Linked DNA regions of Homo sapiens. The protein of the gene in region 2 purifies or fractionates together with the protein of the main gene of each other region. This does not show direct contact. Each region holds a gene or a part of one and is shown on either strand. Other genes may lie near its edges.

Region 1 (6,439 bases), on a different chromosome or scaffold from region 2:
TGTTGTTTCTGTTTTGTTTTTTGAGACAGCACCCAGGCTGGAATGCAGTGGCGGAATCTCAACTCACTGCAATCTCCATCTCCCAGGCTCCAGCCGTCCTCCTGCCTCAGCCTCCTGAGTAGCTGAGACTACAGGCTCCCGCCACTATGTCAGGCTAATTTTTGTAGACAGGGTCTGATTATGTTGCCCAGGCTGGTCTCAAACTCCTGAGCTCAAGCAATCCTCCTGCCTCAGCCTCCCACCATGCCCAACCAAGTCTGTGTTTTTATCCAAGCCAGTCCCAGATCCAAAGCCCCAGCTGAAGCCAGGCACCATGGCTCATGCCTGTAATTCCAGTACTTTGGGAGGCCCAGGCGGGAAGATTTTTTGAGGCCAGGAGTTCAAGACTAGCGTCGAGCAATGTAACAAGAACCCAGCTCTATGAAAAATATTAAAGATTAGCCAAGGGCATGGTGGCATGGGCCTGTGGTCCTAGCTACTCAGGAGGCTGAAGTAGGAGGATCACTTGAGCCCAGGAGTTAAGAGGCTGCAGTGAGCTATGATTACACCATTGCACTCCAGCCTGGGCAACAAAGCAAGCCCCTGTCTCTAAAAAGTTAAATTAAATTAAAAAGCCCCACTGCACATGGCATACCACAAAAGCATCCTTTTTTTTTTTTTTTTTTTAGACGGAGTCTTGCTCTGTCACCCAGGCTGGAGTGCGATGGCACAATCTTGGCTCACTGCAACCCCCACCTCCCAGGTTCAAGCAATTCTTCTGCCTCAGCCTCCCAAGTAGCTGGGATTACAGGTGCAAGCCACCATGCCTGGCTAATTTTTGTATTTTTAGTAGAGATGGGATTTGACCATGTTGGTCAGGCTGGTCTCAAACTCCTGACCTCAGGTGATCTGCCTTCCTCAGCCTCCCAAAGTGCTGGGATTACAGGTGTGAGCCACCGTGCCCAGCCCTTACCTTTCTTTTTAAGAGGCGACATCTCGCTCTGTCTCCCAGGCTAGAGTGTAGTGGTGCAATCATGGCTCACTGCAGCCTCAAGCTCCCAGGTTCAAGTGATCCTCCTGCTTCAGCCCCCCAAAACACTGGGAATACAGGTGTGAGCCACCCTGCCCAGCCCCTTTCCTTACCTTTCTCTCTGACTTTGCCTCCTCCTCTTCTTGTTGTTTCAGAACAAAGGGACCCCGGTGAAACAGTAGGTGGAGATGAGATTGTGATGGTCATCAAAGACAGCCCACAAACCATCCCAACATACACAGATGCCTTGCACGTTTATTCCACGGTAGAGGGTATGAGCTCCCAGCTGGCCCAGGGATCCCTCTGCTCTTCCCCCTCTCCTGCCACTCCCAACTCCTGAACCTCTCCTCCAGGACCCACGCCCTTCCAGGATCCCCTCTACCTACCCTCTGAAGCTCCCCCGAACCCACCTCTCTGGAATTCCCAGGATACATCGCCTACCGACATGATCAGAAAGGCTCATGCTTTATCCAGACCCTGGTGGATGTGTTCACGAAGAGGAAAGGACATATCTTGGAACTTCTGACAGAGGTGAGTTGACAAAAGGTAGCTGGGACCACCGCCCAGGCCAAGAAGGGTGCAGGCGGAGGGGGCTGAGCCTCCTCCTAACCCCTCTCCATTTCCCTCAGCTCCAAATCCAAGCCAGATCTCAATACAGAAACTAAGAAGCCCACTTTCCAACAACTTTCCCAAATGCAGGGACTCTTAAAAGCCACAGTATGGGAGATAAATTTCTATAAACAAATCCCCCTTGGATATAAACAATGTTTGGGCAAACTGTTTTCTTTTAATGTTTATATGTTTTTATTGCAAATTATTTAAAAAATGCCCAGCCAAGGATTCCATACAAACTATGGTATAGGAAGAGGCCACAACGGTCTCTCATCTTAGGACAAGAATACCCACCTGCCCCGTTCCCTAACCCTCCCCCCATAAGTCCATGACACTGACTCCTCCAAGCTCACCACACCTGTTGCTGCAGGTGACCCGGCGGATGGCAGAAGCAGAGCTGGTTCAAGAAGGAAAAGCAAGGAAAACGAACCCTGAAATCCAAAGCACCCTCCGGAAACGGCTGTATCTGCAGTAGAAGTAGAAAGACCAGGAGGAGCTTTCCTTCCAGCATTCTTTCTGTCTCACAGAAATTTAGAGGCAGCTCTTACCTCTCCCCAAGATCTTCTGTTCCCAAGGCCAAATGGCACCCAGTTTCTTTTCCATCACACCCTTCATGCAGGTCCTCCTGTCCTTATTAGAGCAAGCCAGCCAAAACTTAGCACAAGGCATGGTGGCAACATTAACATCACCTCCCTCAGGCTGGACTTTCTATCTTTATTAATGCAACCGAAGAGACCTAAGAGTGCATTCACTTATCCCACTTTCTGTTCCTGTGGTCTTCTTTCTCCCATGAAGCAGAAACTGGATAAAGCTCAAGATTTTCCATAGACAAACCAAAGCCCACTCATCCCCTCCTACCCCAATCCAACCTCTGCTGGCTCCTGCATCTCACTTGGAGGTCAAACCTCCTCCTGAGGCCAATGCATTCCCAACTTCCAGTTCTTTCCTTTACCCTGGAGAGTTAGTAAGGTAAGAACCATTCTTTCTCTCCAAAACCACTCCTCCTTGGCTGGCAAGTTGGTGTCCTAACTCCGTTCTCTTCCTAGCTCATGGCCTCTCTAGATAATAAAGTTGTCTCCTCCTTTCTGGATCTCTTCCTCCTAACACCCCTCCCCTGAAACCCTGGACTCTGCCCTCTCTCCAAGAAAATCCATCTATTCAACTATTCTTGCATTCAATTACTCTAAATGAGAGCGTGTTGGAGCTATGGCAAATTCCCTGTTGTCACCTTGCTATTTTGCAGACAACATAATATTTAACCTCTCATAACCAGAGAGGTTAAATAATTTGTCAAATGCAATACAGTAAGACAGAGGCAAGGACAAGGTTTGACTTCCAGCCCAGCCTCTTTTCCACAACCTGCTAAATCCTGATCCATCTGAAAACTTTTCTAATTAGTGAAGATGACTAATAAAAATTTTCCCTATCTCCAAGGTAGGAGCTTTCTGGAAGTTTCTAGAAATTTTCAATAACCACCAGCCAAGGTTACCTCCAGGTAACCTTGCAGCACCAGGCTGGAAGTCAGATCGGCTTCACTATCTTCCAACTCTACAGCCTGTATCTCTCCATCCCCAGCTTTGACCTTTCCTGCTCAAGTAACCTACGGGCACATCCAGCGTCACTAAAAACTCAGGGCTTTTCTTCCCGGTTACTCCTCCAAGCGTTCCCTGGTATCCTCAACCTCAGATCCCAGGTTCAGATTTCTGCAGTCAATCTATGACCCCTCTCTTCTTGCATCCTTCATATGCCACCAGACACCATGCCCAGTCCAGCCTGATTTTGAAACAACTTTCATGCCGGTCTTCTCTTCCCTGACATGTTACTGTCCAGGCTCAAGTCCTCAGCTTCTCATATCTGCATCTTTGCAACCAACTTCCTCCCTTGCCTCTCTGCTTTTCCATCCCACTTTTCATGTGTCCTCCATACCATCTATAACAGTGATCTCCCTGGAACACTCAAGAAGACACAACATACCATATTATTTAAAGACCAGGGTACTGGACAGTGGCTCACACCTGTATTCCCGACTTTGAGAGTCTGAAGCGGGAGGATCACTTGAGGCCAGGAGTTAAGAGACCAGCCTGGGCAACACAGCAAGACCCTGTCTCTAAAAAAAAAAATTAATTAACTGGGTATGGTGGCACATGCCTGTAGTCCCAGCTACTCAGGAGGCTGAGGTGGGAGGATGACTTGAGCCCAGGAGTTTGAGGCTGCAAGGAGCTATGATCATGCCAGTGCATCCCAGCTCTAGGTGAGACAGTGAGATCCGGTCTCCAAAATAAATCAATCAATCAAATAAAGACCAAAGTCAAACCGCACATCAGGATCTCTCACACCCTTCCAATTTTGCCATCTACCAGCACTTAGCTAAACCCATCTCCCATCTCTTCCACCATGAATTCACTCTTTCAAAAAGGCTAATGTCTTCTTACTCACCCTTGCCTCTAAGCCTTTGCTATCACCATTTCCCCCAAGCTGGAGGGCCCTCCCTCTCCCTTTACCCCTCTTCCACTACCTCCCACCCCTACTTTTTCCAGAAAGCCATTTCCTCTCTTTTTTCTGATTGATCCTTCCCTCTCACCCAGGATTAGATGCTGGAAATGACCACTTCTGGAGGGCAGGGAACAAGCCCTTAATCTGCATAATGAGTGTTCAATAAACAGTTGTCAAACTTTGAAAGAAAGTGTTGAAATCTTTGTTCTGTGCTGAAACAGTGAGGCTGATACAAAAGGAGTTATGGATTTAATTTCTTTTTTCCCAGTGGCTGGCTTCCTCCCAGGTGTGTCTATCATGAATGGAGAATCAGGAGCTTCAGCCTGTGTCTTCTTTCCTTTTTTTTTTCTTTAAGAGATGAGATCTTGCTCTGCCACCCAGGCTGGAGTACAGTGGCACCATCATAGCTCACTGCACCCTCGACCTCCTGGGCTCAAGCAATCCTCCCACCTCAGCCTCTCATGTAGCTGGGACTACAGGTGTGCATCACCACACCTGGCTAATTTTCTTATTTTTCGGTAGAGATTGGGTCTTGCTATGTTGCCGAGGCTGGTCTCACAGTCCTGGTCTCAAGCAATCCTCTTGCCTTGGCCTCCCAAAGTGCTGAGATTACAGATGTGACCCACCACACCGAGCTCCTGTCTCTTTCACAAAAACAGACGTGTTGGGAATTTGTAAAGTTACAGGCCACACTTTCATGCTGAATGGCTATCTTTTACATAATTGTTCCATCTCCAGAATGTTTCCAAGGAAGTATGCAGACAGAAAAATGTCACTTTTCAGAACTATAAGGGACATTGGAGGTGGGCTAGTTACAGCATCAAAGACATTTAGCAAGTGTGCCATCTCTCTAGCCTGGTGCCCATGGCAGACATGACTAATCAATCACACCTATTTTTCCTAATGAACTCAAGTGTTACCTCAAAGCCTTTCTCCTCTGAGCACTTGGGAAGCTGACACCTGTCTACTGGCATAAGTACATCATTCCTGATCCATTTGAACCTCCACCTTAGGAAGTCAATCGTCTATGGTCATTTTATGTGGTACACCCAGGAATCTAGCCATGGCAGTAACCGGGGTTTTATCCATGGAGATGGAAAACCAAGTGGCCAACACAGGGGTGGGTTCGAAGGGCCAAGAGATCTGGGGTGATGCATGCACTGAGCTCTATACACTTACTTACATGCCAACCTGCGGTCCAAACACCCAATGATTCTGGGAGTCTCCAAACATGAGGGTCAGAAAACTGTGTCTCACTCACCAGATCCAGTCTGCAGTTTGTTTTTATCAACAAAGCTTTGCTGGCACACAGGCATGTTTATTCACTTACATACTGGCTACGGCTGCCTTCAACCTACAATGGTAGAGTTGAGTAGTTAGAACAGACAGCATATGGCCCACAAAGCTGAAACTATTTACTATTTGGCCCCTTACAGAGAAGGTTTGACAACCCCTATCCTAATATCTTTCCAAAAATTCCAATTTTGCTATCAATACTAATTTTGATGTCAATGACGTATCACCTCACACCTGTTGGGATGGCTATTATCAAAAAGATAGGAGATAAGCGTTGGTGAGGGTGTGGAGAAAAGGGAACCTTTGTTGGTGGAAAATAGAATGGTGCAGCCATTGTGGAAAACACTATGGAGATTCCTAAAGAAATTAAAAACAGGCTGGGCATGGTGGCTCACACCTGTAATCCCAGCACTTAGGGAGGCTAAGGCGGGTGGATCACTTGAGGGTGGGAGTTCAAGACCAGCCTGGCCAACATGGTGAAACCCCGTCTCTACTAAAAATACAAAAATTAGCCAGGTATGTTGGTGGGCGCCTGTAATACCAGCTACTTGAGAGGCTAAGGCAGGAAAATCGCTTGAACCTGGGAGGCGGAGGTTGCAGTGAGCTGAGATCGTGCCACTGCATTCCAGCCTGGGAGACAGAGTGAGACGCTGTCTCAAAAAGAAAAAAAAAAAGGAAGAGGCTGGGCGCGGTGGCTCACACCTGTAATCCCAGCACTTTGGGAGGCCGAGGTGGGCAGATCACGAGGTCAGGAGATCGAGACCATCCTGGCTAACACAGTGAAACCCCGTCTCTACTAAAAATACAAAAAATTAGCCGGGCATGGTGGCGGGCACCTGTAGTCCCAGCTACTTGGGAGGCTGAGGCAGGAGAATGGCATGAACCCTGAAGGCAGAGCTTGCAGTGAGCCGAGATCACGCCACTGCACTCCAGCCTGGGCGACAGAGCAAGACTCCATCTCAAAAAAAAAAAAAACAGAACTACAAAATAATCAAGTAATCCCACTCCTAGGTATATATGCAAAATAAA
Region 2 (6,782 bases):
TGTGTGCGTGTCTGAGTGTGTGCATGCCATCAGGACGCACGTGTGTGCATGTGTGTGTGCATGCCATCAGGACGCACGTGTGTGCATGTGTGTGCATGCCATCAGGACGCACGTGTGTGCATGCCATCAGGACGCGTGTGTGCGTGTCTGAGTGTGTGCATGCCATCAGGACGCACTTGTGTGCATGTGTGTGTGTATGCCATCAGGACGCATGTATGTGCGTGTCTGCATGCCATCAGGACACGTGTGTGTGCATGTGTATGTGCATGCCATCAGGACGCGTGTGCACGTGCGTGCCATCAGGACGCATGGGCGTGGGCATGTGTGTGCGTGCCATCAGGACACGTGCATGCGTGTGTATGCGTGTGCATGCCATCAGGTTTGAGGAGCACTGGCCTCTGTCCTCCCTTGGGCTCCCTGTGCACAGCCCTGCCCCAATGCGAGTCCCCAAATCGCCACGGGCTCTTCTGCTCTAGACCCACCCTGTGTAGGATGCAGCACCCCTGCCCCTCGAGTGCTTTACATCTTGCAGGAACGCTCATCATCTTAGGCCGCCTCGGCATCCACTCTGAATCTAGGCTGGACTTTCTCTGACCAGAAGCGGGGCTGCCACCCGCAACAATTTTCAGTTCACATCCCCCTTCCTCGAGCTGATCCACCCAGACGCCCGCCCTACGCACTGTCCCCTGGTGACCACCCCCCATGTCCCCACGGACCCCACGCCCCACATGGACTGTGCAGCCACACCACGGAGTCCCCCACAGTCACAGCGTGGCCCCACGGGGCTCGTGCCCGCTTGTATTAAACCCACCAGTTAAAACTCCCCAAGGGAAACCTGTGTGCAGAACGCCCTGGACCCAATAAAGGGTCGGCCTGGGGGTTCCAGTCTCTCTCCACTTTCCCTGGCCTCCCTGCATGTGTGGCCTCCCGCACGTGTTTCCCTCGTGTCTCTCTCTTGATCACTAGGGGCTGCTCTCCCTCCCATAGATCCTAAATGAAAACACGGCTTCACTGTCTGCCTCCCCTGAAGACACACATGGCCAAGCAGGGGGACGCTGCAGCTTCCTCTCTGCACTCTGCTCAGGGCTGGCATTCGAGGACACGCAGGAACAGGGGTGGAGTCAACAGTGGAGGGACGGCATGAGCAAGTGCCACTGTCACCCATCCTGGCGTGCGGCCACATCCACCAGGGAGAGGCGAAGCCCAGGAATGACACCCAGAAGACACAAGAGATCATAAGGAAAGGCCAAACTGGAAAGTGAGTGAAAGAAACAGGCTTGCTTAAAAGAGGAAGCGGGAACAGCCAAAGCGAGGCTGGAACGATGTTTAGCTCGGTGCTAATGGGCAAGAGTGACTTACACGGCAGGAAACAGCCAGTTGAGCGCAGAGGGTGCTGGGAGATGGACACCCTGCTGCCTCACTGCGTGCGCACACCTGTCGGGATGGGAGACGGGCGCCCTGCTGCCTCACTGCGCGCACACCTATCGGGAAGCCCCAGACGGCTATCCCACTGCTTGTCACCCGCCAGAGAAACCCAAGACAAAGGCACCAAGAGCCACACACACACAGACGTTCACAGCACCAGATGAAAATCAGGAAGCACCCACTTGTCCTGAAGTGGGTCCCTGGCAGCTTGAACATCCCCACACCCCAGGCCATCTGCTGAAAAGCCTGAGGCAAAGGCCTAGCTGGCTACTCTGCCCCATGGCCTGTCCCTCCTCTACCACTGCCTGACCCTCATCACTGGGGTAAGTCTTGAAACCACAGACTCCACTTCATTCTTTAGAAAAATGGTTTTAACTGTTCTAGGTCCTTTGCCTTTGCATGTAGCTTGTGTAGTATAAAAAACTGAGATTTTGTTAGGACTGTGTGAAATCTACAGATTCACTCAAGGGGAATGATTTAGCAACATTTGTAGGAAGCCAGCTCTGAACTGTCAGAGTGGGCACGCCTGGGCAGCACCAGGGGCAGAACAGCCACGGAACCCAGTGCACGGAGGGGACGCAGCTAATGCACAGGCAGGAAAAGGGGTCAGAAATCCCGAAGTCAGGAAGGAAGCTGTCGTCAGCAGCATCAGATACCAGAGGCTAAGAAACTGAGGACTGAGAACAGCCCCTCGGCAAGTGGCAATTCGGAGGGGTTCCCTGGAGACCCTGAAGGAGAGCAGAGGGCAGGGCTGCAGAGAGCAAAAGGCATCCCCCAGTGAGGGGGAGGTCCGCGGGGACGGGAGCAGCAGTGCCATAGAGGGAAATGGGAGGGGCAGTAGGAACACACATTCTCTCTCTGAAGGGAGGCTTTCCTGAGACCCAGGACCAGCACAGAGCCACACACGGTTGTGGGGAACAACGGAAGCGATGGGAGGGGACCAAGATAAAAGCACAAGTGACAGGGTTGGGGCTGGCAACGGCCGCACCACACCCAGGGGCTGCCCCCTCTTCTCCCAACTGTGTCCAGCCCTGTTGGGGGAGCAGCTCATCTCCACCAGCAACTGACCTAGCTGGTGAAGTTGAGGGAGACTGGGTGTGGATACAGAATTAATATTCACTATTTATTTTTAAAAAACTAAAACCACAAAACAAACAAAAAAAATGTAAAGCTGGCATAATTTTGCTTGTCAAAGACCACCACCCATTTTGGTTTTTTTTTTTTTTTTTGAGATGGAGTTTTGATCTTGTCACCCAGGGTGGAGTGCAGCGATCTCGGCTCACTGCAAGCTCCGCCTCCTGGGTTCAAGCGATTCTCCTGCCTCAGCCTCCTGAGTAGCTGGGACTACAGGGCCCCACCACCACGCCCAGCTAATTTTTTGTATTTTTTTAGTAGAGACAAGGTTTCACCGTATTAGCAAGGATGGTCTGGATCTCCTGACGAGTTTCACTCTTGTCACCCAGGCTGGAATACAACGGCACGACCTCGGCTCACTGCAACCTCCGCCTCCCGGGTTCAAGTGATTCTCCTGCCTCAGCCTCCCGAGTAGCTGGGATTATAGGCATGCACTACCACACCCGGCTAATTTTGTATTTTTAGTAGAGATGGGGTTTCTCCGTGTTGGTCAGGCTGGTCTCGAACTCCTGACCTCAGATGATCCGCCCACCTCAGCCTCCCAAAGTGCTGGAATTACAGGCGTGAGCCACCGCGCCCGGCCGACCACTACTCACTCGGTGGTATATATTCTTCAGATCAGCTGAAGGCACACACACGCATCGTAACAAGTACTTTAACACGCCCTGGACACCTGCTCCCGGGCCTTATCTCACCACGGCCTGCTGGCATCCCCAACGCTGGTCATGGGCAATGACACGATGATGGAGGGCCCACCCTACAGATGTACTCCCGCACTCTGGCTGCCCTAGTTGCAGATGATCCAGAACTGGGATTCCTGGGCCAAAGGAGAGTCCACAGGTGTGGCTGTGTTAACTCGGCCAAAATGCCTTCAGGAGAGCCTTTTTCATTCTTACCCACCCACAACCCTCCCGACAGTCCAAAGCAGGGGTTGCAAACCTTCTTCTAGCAGCAGCACTCTCTTCTAGTGAAATCTCATCCAAAGCCTCCACACACAGGCAAACAGAGCCTGCTGCTCCAGCCACCTGAAGCCGGGGCCCTGTGGCTGGACAGCAACTGCTGACCTGGCCCTGCTCTGCCTTGTGCTTGCCGGCGGGACAGTATTCACGGGCACACTGACTACTGACCTGGTCCAGATCGAGGCTGGCGCCAGCCTCCGCCAAAGGCCCCAGAAACTTACTGACAGCTCCAGCATCTTCTCTATAAATGACACTAGGTCTCTAGGTGGTGTCTGCTGACCTGGAGGGGTCAGGCTGCTGGATCAGCCTTGGTAGTCGATGAAGGGCTGAGGTGCTGGACAGGTCCTGCAGCCTACCGAAGCCCCAGGTGCCACCACACAGGGGTACTTCCACTTAGCTCAGAGACCGTCCTGGGGATTGCGAAACCCTGGGGGCGCCCAGCACAGAAGGCACACTGAATAACTGAATATATGTGCCTTTCCTTTGATGATATGCACTGGGTCTTAAGAAATAGTAGAACAGGCCAGCTTCAGTGTTTACCCCGGTCTGGTTTTCTCAGCTATGGCCCTATGGTGTCAGAGGCTGGTGAACACAGACGCTACAGGCGGCCCTGCAGGCTGAGACACATCAGCAGAGCAAACACTTCCAGCGTGTGGAGAAGCAGACGAGGAGGAGTTCCAACTAAGCCAATTTAACTAGCACACATCCAAAGTAGAAAGGCTGCTGTTTGCAAATAAAAGATGTTGAACAGGCAAGGCTGACTGAGAATATAAAAACCGCCTGGTGTTCTTCTCCTAAGCACAGAATCCTTACCTTCATAAGGGGTCATCTCTGGGCCTCGGACGACATAGTGCCTAAGGGAGAGAAGAAAATTACTTGGGATTTGAGGACAGCAAATTCTCCAAAATCTGAATCATTCCAAGCCTGGGGTTTATAGAACCCAGCCAAAATTACATTCACATTCAGGCAGTGAACAAATGAAGGTGAAATGTCACACAGCCACACGGCTTCAAAACCCCCGTCTCTTCTACCGTGGGTGCTTTTAGTCTCTTGTAACAGGATCTTAGAGACTATACTTTATAAGTTTACCATAAAGTACCTTTGTTTCGACAATATAACATGCACGAAGCTCATCTTAATAATAACTGAAATCTTAAATAAATTTTAATTTCACAGTACATTACTAAGATGTACTTGAAGACTGTAATCCCAGCACTTTGGGAGGGCACGGTGGAAGATCGCTTGAGCCCAGGAGCTTGACACCAGCCTAGGCAACATAGCAAGACCCCACCTTTATTTAAAAAAAAAAAGTTAGCCGGGTGTGGTAGTGCATGCCTGCAGCCCGCCTACTCAGGAGGCTGAGGCGGGAGGATCACTTGAGCCCAGGAGTTTAAGGCTGCAGTGAGCTATGATTGTGCCACCACATCCCATTTGGGCAACAGAGTGAGACCCTATCTCCAAAGAAAAAACGATGTACTTTGAAATGTATATTCTTAAATGTACTTATATATAATGTGTTTTTTGATATCACACATGCAGGCTAAACAGAACACAGCTAGTGATGCGGGGCCGGCTCGGTACCCCCAGCCCTTTCTCGTGCTCCTGGAAAAACCATAAGTGACTTGAGCAGCTGTCCTGGAGCAGAAGGAACAGGAACTGCCGTGATTGTGTCCAAAGCCACAGTCCCCACACAGAGCTCACCCTCAGACCAGGGGCAGCAGCAAATCGACTAAACACTCCTCCACACAAATAAATAAGGCTTCTGCTTTACGTAAAGAAGTGTCTGGGCTTTACAGATTCCCAAACGAAACAGAAGAGCACAGAGAAGAAAGTAAAACCAGCTAGAAATGCCAGAAACCAGACATGGCTTCAACTGCCAACACCGGCCAACACCGGCCATCATCTTTCCCCTTGCTCTGCCCCAGGACATGTGTGCCATCACTTTAAAACTAATGGGGGCTGGGCTCGGTGGCTCATGCCCGTGATCCCAGCACTCTGGGAGGCCAAGGTGGGTAGATCACCTGAAGTCAGGAATTCGAGACCAGCCTGGTCAACATGGCGAAACTCCGTCTCTACTAAAAATACAAAAATTAGGCCAGGTGCGGTGGCTCACACCTGTAATCCCAGCACTTTGGGAGGCTGAGGCAGGTGGATTGCCTGAGGTCAGGAGTTCAACACCAGCCTGGGCAACACGGTGAAACCCTGTCTCTATTAAAAATACAAAAATTAGCCAGCCATGGTGGCACACACCTGTAATCCCAGCTACTCAGGAGGCTGAGCCAGGAGAATCGCTTGAACCTGGAAGACGGAGGTTGCAGTGAGCCGAGGTCACACCGCTGCACTCCAGCCTGAGTGACAGAAATAGTACTCAAAAGAAACTACTAATGGGATGACGTATAGTAATGTATACTAATGGGATGATGTATCAGCAGAGCCAGCTGGTATGTTTTACTCAAAAAATGCCATTATCATGTGTCATTGACCCAGGAACCCAGTGGCTCTGAGCTCAGCACGCGATGCACCCAGGAATGTGGCCTTACGTTGTTACTGTGCCCAACCTGCGAAAACTGGGAAGAAATGAAGAAGTCATCCTCTTCCTGAGACAGAGCCCAGCAGCCTTGGGGCGGCTGAGAGAAGATGGGATCCACGTGGCCCATAGCGCACCCCACAGGCCTTTTCTGGGAAAGCAGTCTTCTCTCGGGGAAGGGAGAGACACCTGCCGAGGACCTGCCAGGGGCTCTCGCACTGACGCTGCTGTCCTTAATGCCTCAACAGTACAGGCAACATGGGCTACGCTGAGCCCCTGCTCTCCTGGAAGTCTGGTATTTTGGTATTTTGGCAGGTGCCAGGCAGAGGGTGCCTAGGACCAGCCCCATAAAGTCCCTGGGCCTTCCCCTAATGTTTTAGTTTCCAATGAGTTTCTCTGCTCAACATTCCACACATGCCGTCCAAACCCAAGCCTGCTGCTGGGAATGGAGCACAGAGACTTTGCCCCACATGCCTCTTCCGCTGGCTGACTGCAGTTTTCTCTCGTGTGTGTGTGTGTGTGTGTGTGTGTGTTTTCTCTCCATTGTGTGTGTGTGTGTGTGTGTGTGTGTGTGTGTGTGTGTGTGTGTGGTGGAGTCTCACTCTGTCGCCAGGCTGGAGTACAGTGGTGCGATCTCAGCTCACTGCAACCTCCGCTTCCCGGGTTCAAGCGATTCTCCTGCCTCACCCTCCCAAGTAGCAAGTAGCTGAGATTACAGGCGTGCGCCACCATACCGG
Region 3 (5,735 bases), on a different chromosome or scaffold from region 2:
GTGTAAGCTTTTTCTCTTACTCTCCAGGCAGCTTGAAGTTTGGGAAAAATAGAATGCAACAAATATTTGTTGAATGCATATAATTTTCTGTACCCTGCTAGGCATTTCTCATATTCTTACCTCATGAAATTCTCACAACATTTTGGTAGAAATGGAGGCAAAGGGAAGTTAAATTACTTGTTCAAATGCACAGAGCTAATAAATGGCAGGGGTGGTTTATAGATGGAAGTCAGTCTGACTCGAGAGACCCTAATCCTTTACCGTCTGATATTGCTCACTGAAAATGGGACTTATATCCCTTTGTTGCACTGGTATTGAGACCTGGCCGTGGGGTCTAACCTGCCTGGGGCAAATATTTTCAGACATTTTTTGTTTGGTCTCAAGTTAACAATTTAGAATTCAGAAGTCCAAATTATATGTCTTTTAGAATTCTGATCTGAAAGCACAGAGAGGCCTTTGTACCAGTCTGTCTGTTCACATTTGGGTTGCCATATTTAACAAATAAAAAGACAAAGCACCAGTTAAATTGGATTTCAGCTGAAAAACATTTTTAGTATAAGTGTGTCTGAAAAATTATATGGGAGATATACTAAAATATTCATTGTTTGTCTGAAATTCAAATTTAACTGGACATACTATATTTTATCCGGCAACTGTACTCTAGAAGACTTTTTCTTGAGAAATACCTTGAGTTGGGCTTAAGGATGAGTCAGTTTCACCCACTTTTTCACATTTTAGGGCTCACCTTCTCTCTGGGCAAACAAGTTGGGAACAAGTTCTTCCTGACCAATGGTGAAATAATGACCTTTGAAAAAGTGAAGGCCTTGTGTGTCAAGTTCCAGGCCTCTGTGGCCACCCCCAGGAATGCTGCAGAGAATGGAGCCATTCAGAATCTCATCAAGGAGGAAGCCTTCCTGGGCATCACTGATGAGAAGACAGAAGGGCAGTTTGTGGATCTGACAGGAAATAGACTGACCTACACAAACTGGAACGAGGGTGAACCCAACAATGCTGGTTCTGATGAAGATTGTGTATTGCTACTGAAAAATGGCCAGTGGAATGACGTCCCCTGCTCCACCTCCCATCTGGCCGTCTGTGAGTTCCCTATCTGAAGGGTCATATCACTCAGGCCCTCCTTGTCTTTTTACTGCAACCCACAGGCCCACAGTATGCTTGAAAAGATAAATTATATCAATTTCCTCATATCCAGTATTGTTCCTTTTGTGGGCAATCACTAAAAATGATCACTAACAGCACCAACAAAGCAATAATAGTAGTAGTAGTAGTTAGCAGCAGCAGTAGTAGTCATGCTAATTATATAATATTTTTAATATATACTATGAGGCCCTATCTTTTGCATCCTACATTAATTATCTAGTTTAATTAATCTGTAATGCTTTCGATAGTGTTAACTTGCTGCAGTATGAAAATAAGACGGATTTATTTTTCCATTTACAACAAACACCTGTGCTCTGTTGAGCCTTCCTTTCTGTTTGGGTAGAGGGCTCCCCTAATGACATCACCACAGTTTAATACCACAGCTTTTTACCAAGTTTCAGGTATTAAGAAAATCTATTTTGTAACTTTCTCTATGAACTCTGTTTTCTTTCTAATGAGATATTAAACCATGTAAAGAACATAAATAACAAATCTCAAGCAAACAGCTTCACAAATTCTCACACACATACATACCTATATACTCACTTTCTAGATTAAGATATGGGACATTTTTGACTCCCTAGAAGCCCCGTTATAACTCCTCCTAGTACTAACTCCTAGGAAAATACTATTCTGACCTCCATGACTGCACAGTAATTTCGTCTGTTTATAAACATTGTATAGTTGGAATCATATTGTGTGTAATGTTGTATGTCTTGTTTACTCAGAATTAAGTCTGTGAGATTCATTCATGTCATGTGTACAAAAGTTTCATCCTTTTCATTGCCATGTAGGGTTCCCTTATATTAATATTCCTCAGTTCATCCATTCTATTGTTAATAGGCACTTAAGTGGCTTCCAATTTTTGGCCATGAGGAAGAGAACCCACGAACATTCCTGGACTTGTCTTTTGGTGGACATGGTGCACTAATTTCACTACCTATCCAGGAGTGGAACTGGTAGAGGATGAGGAAAGCATGTATTCAGCTTTAGTAGATATTACCAGTTTTCCTAAGTGATTGTATGAATTTATGCTCCTACCGGCAATGTGTGGCAGTCCTAGATGCTCTATGTGCTTGTAAAAAGTCAATGTTTTCAGTTCTCTTGATTTTCATTATTCCTGTGGATGTAAAGTGATATTTCCCCATGGTTTTAATCTGTATTTCCCCAACATGTAATAAGGTTGAACACTTTTTTATATGCTTATTGGGCACTTGGGTATCTTCTTTTGTGAAGTACCCGTTCACATTTTTGTATTTTGTTTAAATTAGTTAGCCAATATTTTTCTTACTGATTTTTAAGTTATTTTTACATTCTGAATATGTCCTTTTTAATGTGTATTACAAATATTTTGCTAGTTTTTGACTTGCTCCTAATGTTGAATTTTGATGAACAAAATTTCCTAATTTTGAGAAAGTCTTATTTATTCATATTTTCTTTCAAAATTAGTGCTTTTTGTGTCATGTTTAAGAAATTTTTGCCCATCCCAAAATCATAAGATATTTTTCATGATTTTGAAACCATGAAGAGATTTTTCATGATTTTGAAATCATGAAGATATTTTTCCATTTTTTTCTAATAGTTTTATTAATAAACATTCTATCTATTCCTGGTAGAATAGATATCCACTTGAGACAGCACTATGTAGGAAAGACCATTTTTCCTCCACTGAACTAGGGTGGTGCATTTTTGTAAGTTAGGTAACTGTATGTGTGTGTGTCTGTTTCTGGGCTGTCTATTCTAGTCTATTTGTTGATGCTTGTGTCAAACAGTACACTATCTTAATTATTGTACATTTATAGTTGTAACTATAGTCCAGCTTTGTTCTTCTTAAAGTCAAGATTTCCATATAAATATTAGAAACAGCTTCTCAATTTCTACAAAATCCTGATGAGGTTTCTACTGGGACCACATTGAGTCTATCAATCAACTTATGCAGAACTGGCAACTTACTACTGAATCTCTAATCAATGTTCATCATGTATCGCTTCATGTAACTAGAATTTCTTTAACTTAATTGCTATGTTTTGACATTTTTAGTTTAAAAACCTTGTATATCTTGTTTTGGTGGTTTTAGTGATTTTAATAATATATTTTAAATATTTTTTCTTTTCTATTGTTGTACACAGAAATACAGTTAAGTTTTGTGTGTAGTCTTACGATGTTTAGTAAACTCAATAAGTTTATTTCTTAAATCTAGTAATTTGTAGATTCCTCTGGATTTTGTATATGCATAGTCATGTAAGCTGAAAATATGGCAATACTTGCTTCTTCCCAATTGCTTTACCTTTTTTCTTACCTTATTGCACTGGTTAGCAACCCCAATACAGAGACCACCAGATCAGGTATAGACTCCTGAAAGACAATATAATGAAGTGCTCCAGTCAGGCCTATCTAAACTGGATTCACAGCTCTGTCACTTAATTGCTACATGATCTAGAGCCAGTTACTTTGTGTTTCAGCCATGTATTTGCAGCTGAGAGAAAATAATCATTCTTATTTCATGAAAATTGTGGGGATGATGAAATAAGTTAACACCTTTAAAGTGTGTAGTAAAGTATCAGGATACTATATTTTAGGTCTTAATACACACAGTTATGCCGCTAGATACATGCTTTTTAATGAGATAATGTGATATTATACATAACACATATCGATTTTTAAAAATTAAATCAACCTTGCTTTGATGGAATAAACTCCATTTAGTCACATTTTATCTTGTGTATGTATTATTGGAGTGGACTTGTTAATAGTTTGTTTAGAACGTTTGCACCTATGTTCATGAGAGATACTAGCTTTTTTTCCCCTCCTTAATGCACTTGCTATGGTTTGGGGTCAATGTTATGTAAGCCTCATTAAAATGAGCTGTGATGTGCTCTCATGCTCCTTATTATCTAAAATAATTTGTGTAAAATTATACTTTAATGTTAGATAAATTCACCAGTGAAGCCATCTTGGAATGGTGTTTTCTGTTGGGAAATGATTTTAATTTCAGATTTAATTTCCTCATGATCTAAACCTATTCATGTTTTCTGTCTTTTGTTCGGTTTCAGTGAGTTATATTTTTCAATGAATGTGTCAATTTCCTCTGAATATATATGTATTGGCATAAAATTGTTACAATATCTTTGTATTTCTTTTCAATATAAGTAGGATCTATAGCAATGTCTATGTATCTGTTATGATTATTTGCATTTTATCTTTATTTTATTGTATTTTTTTTTGAGATGGAGTCTCACTCTGTCACCCAGGCTGGAGTGGCTGGAGTACAGTGGCACGATCTTGGCTCACTGCAATCTCTGCCTCCCAGGTTCAAGAGATTCTCCTGCCTCAGCCTCCCAGGTAGCTGGGATTACAGATGCCCACCACCATTCCTGGCTAATTTTTTTAATTTTTTGTGGAGACGAGGTTTCGCCATGCTGGCTAGGCTGGTCTCAAACCCCTGACCTGAGGTGATCTACCTGCCTCAGCCTCCCAAAGTGCTGGGATTACAGGCATGAGCCACTGTGCTTGGCCCATCTCTTTTTTTCTTAATCAATCTTGCAAAGGATTTGTCCATTTTATTAAATTTTTCCAAAAACTTCTTTTTGGTGTTTACTAACCTCTATGATTACATTTATTTATATCTGTTCCTGTCTTTATCATTTCTTGTATCGATCTTCTGTGGGTTTAATTGGCCATTCTTTTTCTAGCTTCTTTTAATTGACATTTAGAGAACTGATTTTCTTCCTTCCTTCTTTGCTAATATAATCATTTAAAGTTATAATTTTTATTTAAGAACTATTTCAGCTGCATACCACAGGTTTGGATATGTATCTTTTCCCACCAATTCAAAATAGGTTTTTCATATCCAATTCAAAATATTTTATAATTTTCATTGTGACTTCTTCGACTCATGGTTTATTTATAAGTGTGTGGTTTAATTCCTAAATATTTGAGTATTTTAAAAAGCTATACTCCTGTAAGTGATTTATAGTTTAATTCCACTGTATCCAGAAATATACTTTTATATGAGTTCAATCTTTTGAAATTTGTTAAGATTTTATTTTATGATCCAGTTTATGATTTAGAATGGTAAATGTATTATGTGCACTAGAAATAATGTGGTTTTTACAGTTGATTAGTGTATCATTAGGTCAGGATATGAATCTTCTTTGTATTTTCTGTATTCTCACTAATATTTTGCCCTTTTAGAAGGAAATAACAAAGATCAGAATAGAAATAAATGACATAGAGAGTAGAAAAGCAAATAGATCAATGAAACTCAAAAGTTAATTTTTGTGAAATGATACAATTTCCAAACTTTAGCTAAAATAACTAAGAAAAATACAGAGAAGACTCAAAATCAGAAATGAGAGGAGACACGACAACTGATAACATACAAGTACAAAGGATCATAAGAGCTACATTCCTTTGTGTTACATTGTTTTCTCTTTACATTCTGATTGTCTCTCGCTTGCTCGCTGTCTTCTTTTAAAGTTTTGTTTCAGAAGAACTAAAAAAATCTAGGTTTAAAATGTACAGATATCCTTTGTAACTTAGCATTAGGCAAAATTGTCTTAGAGAACTCAATTACT
Region 4 (4,666 bases), about 150 Mb from region 2:
AGTCCAGCCCAAACCCAGGGTGAGCGCAGAGTCTACACGCTGGGGACTCCTGGGACGGGCTGGCAAAAACGCGTGGCCAGGGGAAGGTGTGATCGGTCTGAGGGCTGATGGGGGAGCCAAGGAGAAGGGAATGTGCCCAGCGCACGGATGTGGTCAGGGCGGGAGGCGCGTCCGCACCGATTTTCTGGACCACTAGGGAGATGAGCCCGTCGTCAATGTAGATGCGGCCCCCCACCGGCACGACCCGGACAATATTGGGGTAGTCCACCCACACGGTGTTCGCGTTCCCCCGCGTCCGGAACGCGGGGTCCACAGTCACCAGCACCTGGGAGCCCTTCACCAGCTCCACTTCCGACTCTGGACCCTAAGGAGGGAGCCAGAGGAGATGTGAGTTCTGAGCCCCGGAGTCCGGGACCCGCCCCTGCCCACGCCTGGGCCCAACCCTACAGGCGCCGCCTTTCCGGCCCTGGCCCAGCGAGTCCCAGCCCCACTGCTCACCCCCTGCAGGATCCCAGTGCGGATCTCCGGTCCCTTGGTGTCCAGGGCGATGGCCACGGGCCGGTAGCTGAGTGGGGAACCTGCAAAGCTCTCCACCGCCTCCCGGACGTTGGCGATGGACTCAGCATGGTACTGGGGGAGGGAGCGGAGCGAGGGTTTCAGGGGAAGGTGGCCAGGACCTCGAGGCATCCTCCTGCCCCACCCACTGCCCGGCGGCCCGTCCCGCACCTCGTGGGAGCCGTGGGAGAAGTTGAGTCGCGCAATGTTCATCCCGGCCTTGATCATCTCCTTGAGGCGCTCCACGGAGCGAGATGCTGGCCCTAGAACCAGAGATTCACGTTCAGACAACGTTCCCCCAGAACATGAGAGGCAACCAAACCCAACCCATTACCATTCTCAGAACGCCTCACGCCACAGGCGTCCTGTTACCTGATCTTTATTCCCTGATGCAACCCCTGCCCACAGATCACAGACTCCCCTTCCCTCTCAAGCCAACATCCATCCCCTTGGGGAGGCAGCAGTGTGGAAATCGGAGGGGAGTGCCCTCCGCCAGGCCTGAGGTCACTGTATGGGCATGTATGGGCACTGTATGGGCATGGGTATGTAAGTGCTGCTTGCCCGGCTACCCCAGGGTATGGGGTGTAGGGCAGGGGCTGGGAGCCAGGTGAGGGCGTTTGGGTGCGGGCTTTTAGAGCTAGGAGGCCTCATGGACTGAGGAGAGCTGAGTTCTATCCCATGCCTGCACTGCTATGGGGCAGCTGCTAGCCGAGAGCAGGTTGGCTCATTCTTCGGTCCCTATCTGTCTTTCCACTTGTGCACTAGGTCTCCTCCTTCTCACCTGCTCAAGGACATAAATTAAGCCATTCTGTGGTCCTCTGTGACACCCATGTTTTCCTTTTCTTTTTCTTTCTTTTTTTTTGAGACGGGGGGAGTTTCACTCTTGTCGCCCAGGCTGGAGTGCAGTGGCACCATCTCAGCTCACTGCAACCTCTGCCTCCCCAGTTCAAGTGATTATCCTGCTTCAGCCTCCTGAGTAGCTGGGATTACAGGTGTGCACCACCACGCCTGGCTAATTTTTTTGTATTTTTAGTAGAGAAGGGGTTTCACCATGCTGGCCAGGTTGGTCTTGAACTCTTGACCTCAGGTGATCCATCCACCTCGCCCTCCCAAAATGCTGGGATTACAGGTGTGAGTCACCGTGCCCAGCCATGTTTTCCTTTTTTACTGGATCATCCCCATCCGCAGGTAAACCTACTGTTATTTCTTTCATCATTAAAAAAAAATTCTCTTAATCTCCTGGTTTCCCCTCAGTCCCAGTATTTGCTCTCACTTGCAGCAAAACTCATCGCAAGAGTTATCTGTACTTGCTACCTCTAGTTCCCCTCCCCCATTCTCCCTTGAACCCACCCCACTCAGGCGTTGGCCTCCATCTCTCCACTGCATCTGTTCTTGTCAAGGTCACCAAGAACCTCTGTGTTTTTGCTCCATGTAATGCTCAATGCTCAGTCCTCCTCTATTGGCCCATCAGCAGCCTGAACATACATCCTTCTTTGACACACTGTCTTCACCTGACCTCCAGGGCTGCACCCTCTCTTGGTTGACTCCTACCTCACTAGCTGCTCTTTCCCAGTCTCCTTTCCTTGTTCCTCCCCTTAACGTTAGATACCCTGTTCTCTTCTCCGTCATTTCACCTACACTCCTTTGGTGGTCTCAACTAGTCTCATGGCTTGAGATACCATCTATATGTAGCCAACTCCCAAATGTCTCTCCAATCCAGACCTTTCTCCCAAACCCAGAGTTGTGTACCTGACTGCCCCCTCTATCACATTTGGATGGCTAATAAGCATCTCAGACTCAACATGTCCCAAGCAAACTTCTGCTCTCCCCCCAACCCCTTCCACCACAGTCTTTCCTGCTCAGTGGCTAATGCATCGTTCCAGTTCCTTATGGCAAAAACCTCAGAGTCACCTGTCACCTTTGACTCCTTTCTTTCTCGCCCACACTCCATACCCCATATCCGATCAATTAGCAAATCCTGTCAGCTCTACCTGCAAAATACATTCAGAATCTGACCACTTCTCACCACCTCACTGCCGCCAACTGGTCTGAGCCAGAAATACTGCAGGGGCACCCTTCCCCCCACCCCCCATCTATTTTCAGTGCAGCAGCAGGGGAGGGGAGGCTCTATTAAAACATAAATAAGAGCTTGTCATTCCCCTGCTCAAAACCCTGCAGCAGTTTCTCATTTCACTCGGAGGAAAACGCAACTCAAATTCTAAAAATGGCCTACAAAGCTGCACCTGATCTTCCTGTCCGTACACAGTCTCTTCATGTCTGCCGCTCTTCCCCCTTGATGGTTTCTAGCTCTTCTAACCTTCTTGACTTAGGCCTTGACACTGACTGATCCTTCTTCCTGGAATTCTCTTCCCCCAGGTCTCTGCATGGCTAATTCTCTCATCTCCTTCAAGTCTTCCCTTTGGTCTCATTTACTCAATAATAACTGACCTCCCTATTTAGGGCTGCAACCTGTCTTCACCCTCGTACTCCTGATGCCCTTATCACACTTGATTTCTTTCCCCATAGCACTTAAAACTTTCACTTTTTCTTTCTTTTCTTTTCTTTTTTTTTTAGATGGAATCTCGCTCTGTCACCAGGCTGGAGGACAGAGGTGCGATCTCTGCTCCCTGCCTTCCAGTTCAAGTGATTCTCCTGCCTCAGCCTTCCGAGTAGCTGGGACTACAGGCATGTGCCACCACGCCCAGCTAATTTTTGTATTTTTATTAGAGACGGGGTTTCACCATGTTGGCCAGGATGGTATCGATCTCTTGACCTCGTGATCAGTCTGCCTCGGCCTCCCAAAGTGCTGGGATTACAGGCATGAAACACCACGCCTGGCCTTTTTTTTTTTTGAGACGGAGTTTCGCTCTTGTTGCCCAGGCTGGGGTGCAATGGCACGATCTTGGCTCACCGCAACCTCCGCCTCCCAGGTTCAAGCAATTCTCCTGCCTTAGCCTCCTGAGTAGCTGGGATTACAGGCATGCACCACCATGCCCGGATAATTTTTTGTATTTTTAGTAGAGACGGGGTTTCTCCATGTTGAGGCTGGTCTCGAACTCCTGACCTCAGGTGATCCGCCCGCCTCGGCCTCCCAAAGTGCTGGGATTACAGGCGTGAGCCACCGCGCCCAGCTTTTTTTTCTTTTTTTAAAAACAAACAAACAAACAAACAGAGTTTCGCTCTTGTTGCCCAAACTGGAGTGCAATGGCGTGATCTTGGCTCACTGCAATCTCTGTCTCCCGGGTTCAAGCGATTCCCCTGCCTCAGCCTCCCGAGTAGCTGGGATTATAGGCACATGCCACCATGCCTGGCTAATTTTTTGTATTTTTAGTAGAAACAGAGTTTCACCACATTAGCCAGGCTGGTCTCGGACCCCTGACCTCAGGTGATCCACCTGCCTCAGCCTCCCAAAGTGCTGGGATTATAGGCAAGAGCCACCATGCCCGGCCAACTTTCACTCCTTTCTTTCTTTCTTTCTTTCTTTCTTTCTTTCTTTCTTTCTTTCTTTCTTTCTTTCTTTCTTTCTTTCTTTCTTTCTTTCTCTTTCTTTCTTTCTTTCCTTCCTTCCTTCCTTCCTTCTTTCTTTTCTTTCTTTCTTTCTTGCCTGCTTGCTTTCTTTCCTTCCTTCCTTCCCTCCCTCCCTCCCTCCTTCCTTCCTTCCTTCTTTCTCTCTCTCTTTCTTTCTTTCTTTCCTTCTTTCTTTCTTTCTCTCTTTCTCTCTAGGGTCTCGTCTGTCACCTAGGCTGGAGTACAGTGGCTCGATCATGACTCACTGCAGCCGTGACCTCCTGGGCTTAAGTGATCCTCCCACCTCAGCCTCCTGAGTAGCTGGGACTACAGGCATGCACCACCACACTCAACTAAGTTTTGTATTTTTTGTAGAGATGGGTTTTGCCATTTACCCAGACTGGTCTCAAACTCCTGGGCTCAAGCGATCTGCCAACCTTGGCCTCCTAAAGTGCTGGGATTACAGGCATGAGCCACTGAGCCCAGCCCACTTTTTTTTTTTTTTTTTTTTTTTTTTTTTTGTGAGATGGAGTTTTTCTCCTGTTGCCCAGGCTGGAATGCAATGGTGTGATCTCGGCTCACCACAGTCTCCGCCTCCTGGGTT
Region 5 (7,520 bases), on a different chromosome or scaffold from region 2:
AGGTCTTTGGATTCCAAAACCTACATCCCCTCTTCCCGTCAAACCATGTTATCAACACAGTGAACAAGTAGTTTGTGCAAAAGCAGTCTGGTAGATGAGATCCAATAATGAAAAGGCTTTTGACTTTGAGTCCCTCATAAGCTGATAGGAGATATGGGCATTTAACTCCAGTTTCAATACATAGCTGCTTCAGTGATGATATAAAATGTCCTAGTAACAAAAACAGGATGCCCTTAACACTGTTGGGGACAGGGTGTGTCAGTAAAGGCTGCAAGAAATAAATGCTGTTTAAGCTGAGTCTTGCGACATGAGTAGGTAGTTAGGAAAACAAGACAGAGTGATGGAGAAACTCTGCAAACCAAGGGAACGATTGGGCAAAAGCATCGAAAGAGTGTGACATGAAAGAGACCTACGTGCATGTACTCACATAAGTAAGCTAGAGCTCTTGGGGAGAAAGCAGGCAACAGAAAAAGTCATCATCTGGGAGCTGAAAACTACAAACAAAGACCAACCCAGTAATTTCAAGTTTTGGCCTGCTTAACAGTATGATGGGAAGTTCTACCCTTGCCGTTTTGACATTAGGGAAACTAACACTCTTCCTCCAAGGGGCAAGTCTTCCTCAGTCCCCTGAACAATTAGAGGTCTAAAGGCACAGTTCCTTTCTGTATCTTTCTGATTTTAATTTCCAACAGAGCTTTTAGATGCAGAAGATTATTACATGTTGTCAGATGAGACAATGTGTTAAAAGACACGTGTGTCTATCTTTAGGATTGGGGCTGTGGCATCAAAGTAAGCAAGTATTTTTTCCCCATTCAAAGGAACAGAAGACTTGCCCTGGGTGCCAGGCAAATCCTTGATGTTAAATTCCTGTCCCTGGCAGCAAGGGACCCGCCCTATCCTCTGCCTGACACATTTTGCTTCTTTACTCCCTTTTTGCTTGACACACCTGCCTCTCCCCAATCAAGTAAACATGATTTCTCCTTCTTTCAACCCCAATAGGGTGCTGCTTGGTTCATGTTTTGCCTTTAGTTTTGTGTCTGTTTTTGTCTTTTCCTCATTGTTAGATTTCAGTCCAGCTTGCTTTACATGTGGGGCACTATATTTTGTAGTGTAGAGCTGACATATAGTAGATACTCAATACTCAGTTTGATAAAACTCCTTGGCTTTTTTACCCTTCTCCCTTTCATATTTTAGAACAAAGCTCATAGACCCCTTAGTTGACACTATATTTGCTATAACACAGCCATTAAATTTTCTAGAATTCTTTTTTATTTGTTTTATTCAAATGGCTTCTCATGATTGGGCTTTCCTCTTGCTTGCTCTATCTGCCCACTTTGGAAATTGCTTTGTCAGCTCCACCGACTTTCTAAGCTGGGCCCAATCCCTAAATGGCCACAAGTATAAGGTCGCCTTTGGAGTTGAATAGTCTGAAGAGACATCAGTGCAAATCAAGGGCATAGGCATTGGAATCAGATTATCTTGTCTGGAATTATGCAGTCAAGGCTGTGTGACGTTGAGCACATTACCAAACCTCTCTGGGCTTTTTTTTAACCCAACTGTAAGGTAAAAATAATACCTACCTTATTGTTTGTTCGCTGCCTTGCAAGCCTTTCAAGGAGGTGAGACAGGGATGAAGCCCTTTCTCAGACTCAACATTTTAGTCATCTGCCCTCTAATCCTTTCCTTTTGCTTATTTGTCAAACTTGTACCTCCTTTAGGTGAGGACAAATACTTATATGTTGGCCATTTTATCCTCTCTACTCTATGACTTAGTGTAAAAAATCTCTCTCTCTTAGTCCTTACAATCATGAGACAATGAACTCCATTCTCATGACCATGTTTTAATGGGAGGAGGGTGGTAGAAGGAGGACACTTGCTTCCCTTTTGTGAGGTTTTTAAATTATATATTTATTATAACCTGTTCAAGAGTGGGTGAGAACAGTGTGGATTTTAAAAGGAACATTTCTGTGTCAGCAAAATGTCCCTGTGTTTGGGAGAGACTTTTGGAGGATTTCCAGGGGAAGCAAAGTAGTATTTACTGACAGTCCAAATGCAGTTTGGGCCTCTAACCTCTGGCCTCTCTCAATTTGTTTTGCAGTAAAAAGTCAGAGTACACAGCAAGGGTTCCAAATTAAGAGGAAGCAAAACGCTGCCCAGATCCTGAGAAACCTGGAGAAAATCAACCTTAGTAGTTTCAACTCATACATTGTCTTGTTTGATTTTGTTCTTTGTTTTTTATCCTCTTTAAGCACAGATGCGTGTTGAAGTCTAAGGTGTTCTGTCATCACACTCTCTTTACTAGAATAAGTGTGCCCAGGCAGAAAAAAAAGTGTATTCAATGTTGCTGGCATGTGTGGATTCACAGCTCGTGGCTGTAAGGAAATCTGGGGGTTTCATAAATCCATTAAAATCCTTTTAGAGTTGCCAACCCGCAGTAGGATTTTCTTTCTTTTTTTGTTCTTTTTTTCCCCTTCCAAGTGAGGCACATAAAGGATTCTACCTAGTCCATGAATGAACAGTTTCATAGAAACATTAAAACCCTAACATAACATGAATTATTCACAAAGTTGCATGAAACAATAATATTTAGGTTATCCAAATTATAAGAAGCCTGAAGGTTACCACCAAACTATTAAATTTTTCTAGGCATTAATTACATAACTAAACAAATGTATTTCTTAAAATTCTCTCTTCCTCTACATACACACAGTAACATCAAAAACAACAAGAGCAACTAAACCTCAATGAGTAGCTACAATGCAGAAAGAGTCCATTTCAATTCAAAGAAAAATATTTTCTCCTAAAAAATATGAGAAAACATTCTGTAGGTTCAAATGAATTTAGCCTTGGCTGAGATCACGAGCCACAAAAGTAAGTGGATATGTGACTATAATTATACAATGTTGGAAAATGGTGAGAGGACTTTAAAATATGCATTTCCTGGCCAGATTGTATCAGAAAACTGAACTAACTAGACAATAACACCTTACAAATTTTGAAGTCCAAAATTTTCAACTAAATTCCAGGAATTCAAAGAAAGACTTTTTTCCTTACCTGTCCCTTTGAGAAAGGAGCTCCAATAATCCCTATGGTTCTGGACTTGGCGCTCATGCTCTGACACTTCTCTTTGCTGCACTTGAGCTCTCCAGTCAGTCAACCCTCAGTGACAGAGGGCGCATCTTTTTTTTCCATTTATACTTGGGTTGAATAAACAACCTTTATCTAATGAGGACAGCTGGCTCCACCCACTAAACCAAAGAATGACAGTCAACAGTCTTGCAATTTTTCATACATGGAGTAACTATATGGTTACTCCATGTATGAAGTAACTATATGGGGTTACTTCATACATGGAGTAACCTAACTCTGAGTCTAGGTCTCTAATCAAGTGACAATTATTCATGTTCTCACTTCACACCCTTTTAAAAAGCCAGCCAGATGACATTAACCTGACTTCAACAACTGACAAGTTTCACAACTACAGAAGAAGTCCTATTGTTCTGGCTCAGCGAACTCAGGGCAAGGCCCTTTCCTCCTCCAGATCTCTGAAGACGTCCTTGTAGAAGAAGGGCCGGGCTTGGCAAGATCGTCTGTCACATCCCTTCCAGCCCTAAAATCCTGAGTTGAGATTTCACACATGAGGGTAAATGGTTAATCCATGAGACACATTTCATAAACTTTTAGGGTATAATATAATAAAGAGTATATAACTTCCTTTTTTGATGATTACTTTAAAAAATTAGTTACTTGATTGGTAACCCAGAGAGGTTACCATTTTTGAAGTATGGTGTACAGGAAAATAATTGTAGAATCATATCATAATCAAAGTATAGAAATAAAAATAGCTAACATTGAGTTTTTACCATGTGTCCGATGCAGTTCTGTTTCAAAATACCATATTTATATTTATACCAATTTTATGTGAAGTCTCATCATTGGTGCCATTATACTGATGAATAAACTGAAGCTCAGACCCGTTGCCAACATAGGCTGTAGAAGAAAAGTCGGGATTTAGTCTCTGCCATTCTGAATCCACTTAACCGTCGAGCTTATAGTCTAAATGCTGGGAAGGTGTCAACCTCTATGCCCCTGAGCTACCATTTGTCACCATACAAAAGTATGAATTTAAAATAAAGGCACCTTAAAGATCCTTCCGACTTTAAAATTATGTAATTGTAATTTAAAGGGAAAATTCACTTAGTAGAAACTAATTTCTTTTTCCTATTGGTGGGAAAGAACATTTTGGAATTTAAATTCCATGAGGTCAGAGAATTTTGTCTGCTGTATCCCCAGGGCCTAGAAGAGTGTTGGTGTATAATAGGCACTCAATAAATATTTATTGAATGGATAAATGAGGAAACCAAAGTCTCATGGGTCCATTTTGATAGGACTGTTTTCCAAATAGGTTTCCTACCTTTTTCTTGTGGGTTTGCTTGTATATCCTAAATATTTACTTGTGGTATTCCTCATATTGCCTAGATATTAACCTTATAGCATTGACATTGCAAATAACTTTTCCCAACCTGTCAGAAATCTGATAACTTTTTATATGTTATCACTCAAAATCCTCAATTTTAAAATAGACACTTGTATAATTTCCCCCGAATGCTTTGTGCTTTGGAAGTCTTATTAAATTCCTGCCACCCCATCAAATTGTAGGTATGTAGTTTTACATTTTCTTCCATTTGCCTTAGAGCTTATCTTTCTCACTTAGTTCCTGAATCCATCTTTGTATGTTATGTAAATTTTCCAACTCGTTTTTCCTCTATCATTCATGCATCAGTTTCCTCAACAACACCCATTGAATAGTCATTCATTTTGCAATTGATTGGAGTGCTGTCTGTCACTAAACTCTTTCTTCTGTTCCATTGACTTATTTACCTATGGCTGCACCAGATCCATCAGGTTTTATCAATACAGTTTTGCGGTACATCTTATCATTGTTTAGGCAAGAGTAACTGTTTTGCTCTTCTTTTTCAAAATTGATTTACCTTTTATGGGTCTCTATTCTCCTATAGTTGGAATAACCTAATTCCTTAAAAGTATTTGCTAGAATTTTTACTAGATTTATAAATCAATCCATGGAGATTTGCTAACTTTCAAATTTGATTGCTAGAATTTTTTCTTTGAAAAATTCACATCCTGAAAGTTCTTTGTATGCCAAGCTGAGATTGCCTTCCTGTCATATGAACCATTGGTCACCACCCTTTAATCCAAGTAAAGCACATTATCTCTTGGCTGTCATGTCTTTCTTGGATTTCTATTGTTTAGGCTGAATATTCCCAAATACCTCACTAATTTCTTGTGTTACATAGTTGCCACTTTCCTTCAGGTCACCAACTTGGTCGCTGTCTTCAAAACATCTCGCTTCCCTCTGCCTTTCCTAAATAGGGCATCCAGAACAAAATGCACATATCCAAATACAGGTGGAGTTATCTGGTCCATCAGACACAAATTTGATAACATTTGACTTTTCCAAGTCACTGATAAAAATGTTGAATAAGGCAGCACTTTTACAAACACTCTGTGACATTCCACTGGAAACCTTAACCCAGATTGGCATAGCCCCATTAATTAATCATCAGTTGAGATACAACTGATTACTAATTTCCAACTCAACCACTCCATCCTGTTCACAAGGACATCGTAAGGAAATTTATCCGGTGTCTCAATAAAATCTCATCACACTTTACTACCTTTTCTTCTGCCAATCTGACTTCCCTGTCAAAGTTGATGGGCTGACCTTGACAGGTCCAGTTCTTGGTGAACTCATGCTGACTTCTAGTGATTGCTGCTTCCTTTTTATTATTAACACAAGCTATTTTTTCAGTCTCCAAAGCTGTCATCTCAAGACTGCTAGAGGAAGAAGATAAGGGGTGTCTCACCTATATCACTCTATCAAAGATACACTTTCTTCAGCTCAATTCTTTCATTTATCTCAGGGTTATGTACATTGAGGTTTTAAAAGCCCTTCTAACACTGCAAGTCTCTTAACCAAATGTTGAAAGAAAAATCCTATCTGGCATTTTCCTGGGAATGAGACCACATCTTATTTGACCCTAATCCAAAGCTACTGGAATGAGATCTGACACATAACAGGCCCTTGTATTAGTTTCCTATGGCTGCTGTTACAAAGTACTTGTACCACAAACTGGGTGCTTATAAAAAATAAAAAATAAAAAATAAAAATAAAATAAAATACAATTTTTTTATCCATAGTTTAGAGGATAGAAGTCTGAAATCCAGGTGTCGGCAGAGCCATGCTCCCTCTGAGACCTGCAGGGAATCCTTCCTACCTCTTCCTAGCTGCTGGAGGTTTTCTGGCAATCTTTGGCATTTCTCGGCTCATTAGGTGCATCACTCCAATCCTCCATCTTCACTTGGCACGCTCCCTGTGTCTCTGTGTTTTCACATGGCTGTCTTCTTACAGGGACGACAGTCATATTGGGTTAAGCCCCCCACCCACCAGTATGGTGTCATATTAACTAGTTACATCTGCTATGGTCCTGTTTCCAAATACAGCCACATTCTGAGGTACTGAAGGTTAGGACATCAACATATCTTTTGGAGGGATGTAATTCAACCCCTAGCAGCCCAAATTAATATTATTGAAATGATAAAGAAAGCATGAATTAAAAAGTTACATAATGAGGCCAGGCGTGGTGGCTCATGCCTGTAATCCCAGCACTTTGGGAGGCCAAGGCAGGTGGATCACGTGGTCAAGAGTTCGAGACCATCCTGGCCAACACGGTGAAACTCTGTCTCTACCAAAAATACAAAAAATTAGGCGAGTGTGGTGGCAAGTGCCTGTAATCCCAGCTACTCAGGAGGCTGAGGCAGGAGAAGCACTTGAACCCGGGAGACGGAGGTTGCAGTGAGCCAAGATTGCACCACTGCACTCCACTCCAGCCTGGGTGACAGAGCAAGACTCCATCTCAAAAAAAAAAAAAAAAAAAAAAAGTTAAAAAAAAAAAGTTAAAAACAAAAAACTTACATAATGAGAGGGATGAAAAAAATGACACACTTTTGCCCTCTACTTGTTTTTCTTTCTGTTGCTCCAAACTACAGCCCATTTCTGCATTGTCTTTTCAACAGCCAGCTAACAGATAAGAATTCTTTCCAGATGAGGCCCAGGATTCTTAGCACTTTTACCAAAGACTGGAATATACACAAAATTTGAAAGACTAAATCTTGAATCGGGAGACTTCAGGGAATCATTTTGCTTGGTGCATTTCCTAGACCCCTTAAATCCAATACGGTAAGGTTGGACCTGGTCCTGGAACACTACACACTATGATTTTATGGAAATGTTCAAACAGGATGATCTCTGGGTAAGTTACATAGTCATTTCTTTGAGTAGGAACTCTCTTAACCCCTTAAGGCATATTAGTAGCCTAAGTAGCATGGGTCACCATAAAAAGAAGGTTCATAAGAAGTGTCTGGCTCGGGTTGCTTCACAACTATATGTTAACAGACGCCTACTCTTTCCTTCCTTTCTTTTTTTTTTACCCTCCCAGAAT

Evidence for each region.
Region 1: the proteins of UBE2J2 (region 2) and CASP14 purify together in Homo sapiens (affinity purification with mass spectrometry; one large-scale study listed by BioGRID and IntAct). This does not show direct contact.
Region 3: the proteins of UBE2J2 (region 2) and MBL2 purify together in Homo sapiens (affinity purification with mass spectrometry; one large-scale study listed by BioGRID and IntAct). This does not show direct contact.
Region 4: the proteins of UBE2J2 (region 2) and PKLR purify together in Homo sapiens (affinity purification with mass spectrometry; one large-scale study listed by BioGRID and IntAct). This does not show direct contact.
Region 5: the proteins of UBE2J2 (region 2) and ARG1 purify together in Homo sapiens (affinity purification with mass spectrometry; one large-scale study listed by BioGRID and IntAct). This does not show direct contact.

What each region holds. Positions count from the first base shown.
Region 1 is NC_000019.10:15,053,994-15,060,432, forward strand, and holds the end of CASP14 (caspase-14 precursor), read left to right. Parts: intron 1-1,164; coding exon 1,165-1,281; intron 1,282-1,362; coding exon of another isoform or gene 1,363-1,436; coding exon 1,437-1,540; intron 1,541-1,991; coding exon 1,992-2,096; 3' UTR 2,097-4,300; downstream 4,301-6,439. UniProt on the Homo sapiens protein: Non-apoptotic caspase involved in epidermal differentiation. Is the predominant caspase in epidermal stratum corneum. Seems to play a role in keratinocyte differentiation and is required for cornification.
Region 2 is NC_000001.11:1,259,015-1,265,796, forward strand, and holds part of UBE2J2 (ubiquitin-conjugating enzyme E2 J2), read right to left. Parts: intron 6,577-6,782; exon of another isoform or gene 5,817-6,576; coding exon of another isoform or gene 5,769-5,816; intron 4,373-5,768; coding exon 4,332-4,372; intron 3,377-4,331; exon of another isoform or gene 3,271-3,376; coding exon of another isoform or gene 3,255-3,270; intron 1-3,254. UniProt on the Homo sapiens protein: Catalyzes the covalent attachment of ubiquitin to other proteins. Seems to function in the selective degradation of misfolded membrane proteins from the endoplasmic reticulum (ERAD).
Region 3 is NC_000010.11:52,763,514-52,769,248, reverse strand, and holds the end of MBL2 (mannose-binding protein C precursor), read left to right. Parts: coding exon 1-2; intron 3-738; coding exon 739-1,112; 3' UTR 1,113-3,869; downstream 3,870-5,735. UniProt on the Homo sapiens protein: Calcium-dependent lectin involved in innate immune defense. Binds mannose, fucose and N-acetylglucosamine on different microorganisms and activates the lectin complement pathway.
Region 4 is NC_000001.11:155,294,939-155,299,604, forward strand, and holds part of PKLR (pyruvate kinase PKLR), read right to left. Parts: intron 819-4,666; coding exon 727-818; intron 631-726; coding exon 499-630; intron 365-498; coding exon 178-364; intron 1-177. UniProt on the Homo sapiens protein: Pyruvate kinase that catalyzes the conversion of phosphoenolpyruvate to pyruvate with the synthesis of ATP, and which plays a key role in glycolysis.
Region 5 is NC_000006.12:131,568,874-131,576,393, reverse strand, and holds the start of ARG1 (arginase-1), read right to left. Parts: upstream 3,169-7,520; 5' UTR 3,112-3,168; coding exon 3,055-3,111; intron 2,429-3,054; exon of another isoform or gene 2,102-2,428; coding exon of another isoform or gene 2,099-2,101; intron 1-2,098. UniProt on the Homo sapiens protein: Key element of the urea cycle converting L-arginine to urea and L-ornithine, which is further metabolized into metabolites proline and polyamides that drive collagen synthesis and bioenergetic pathways critical for cell proliferation, respectively; the urea cycle takes place primarily in the liver and, to a lesser extent, in the kidneys.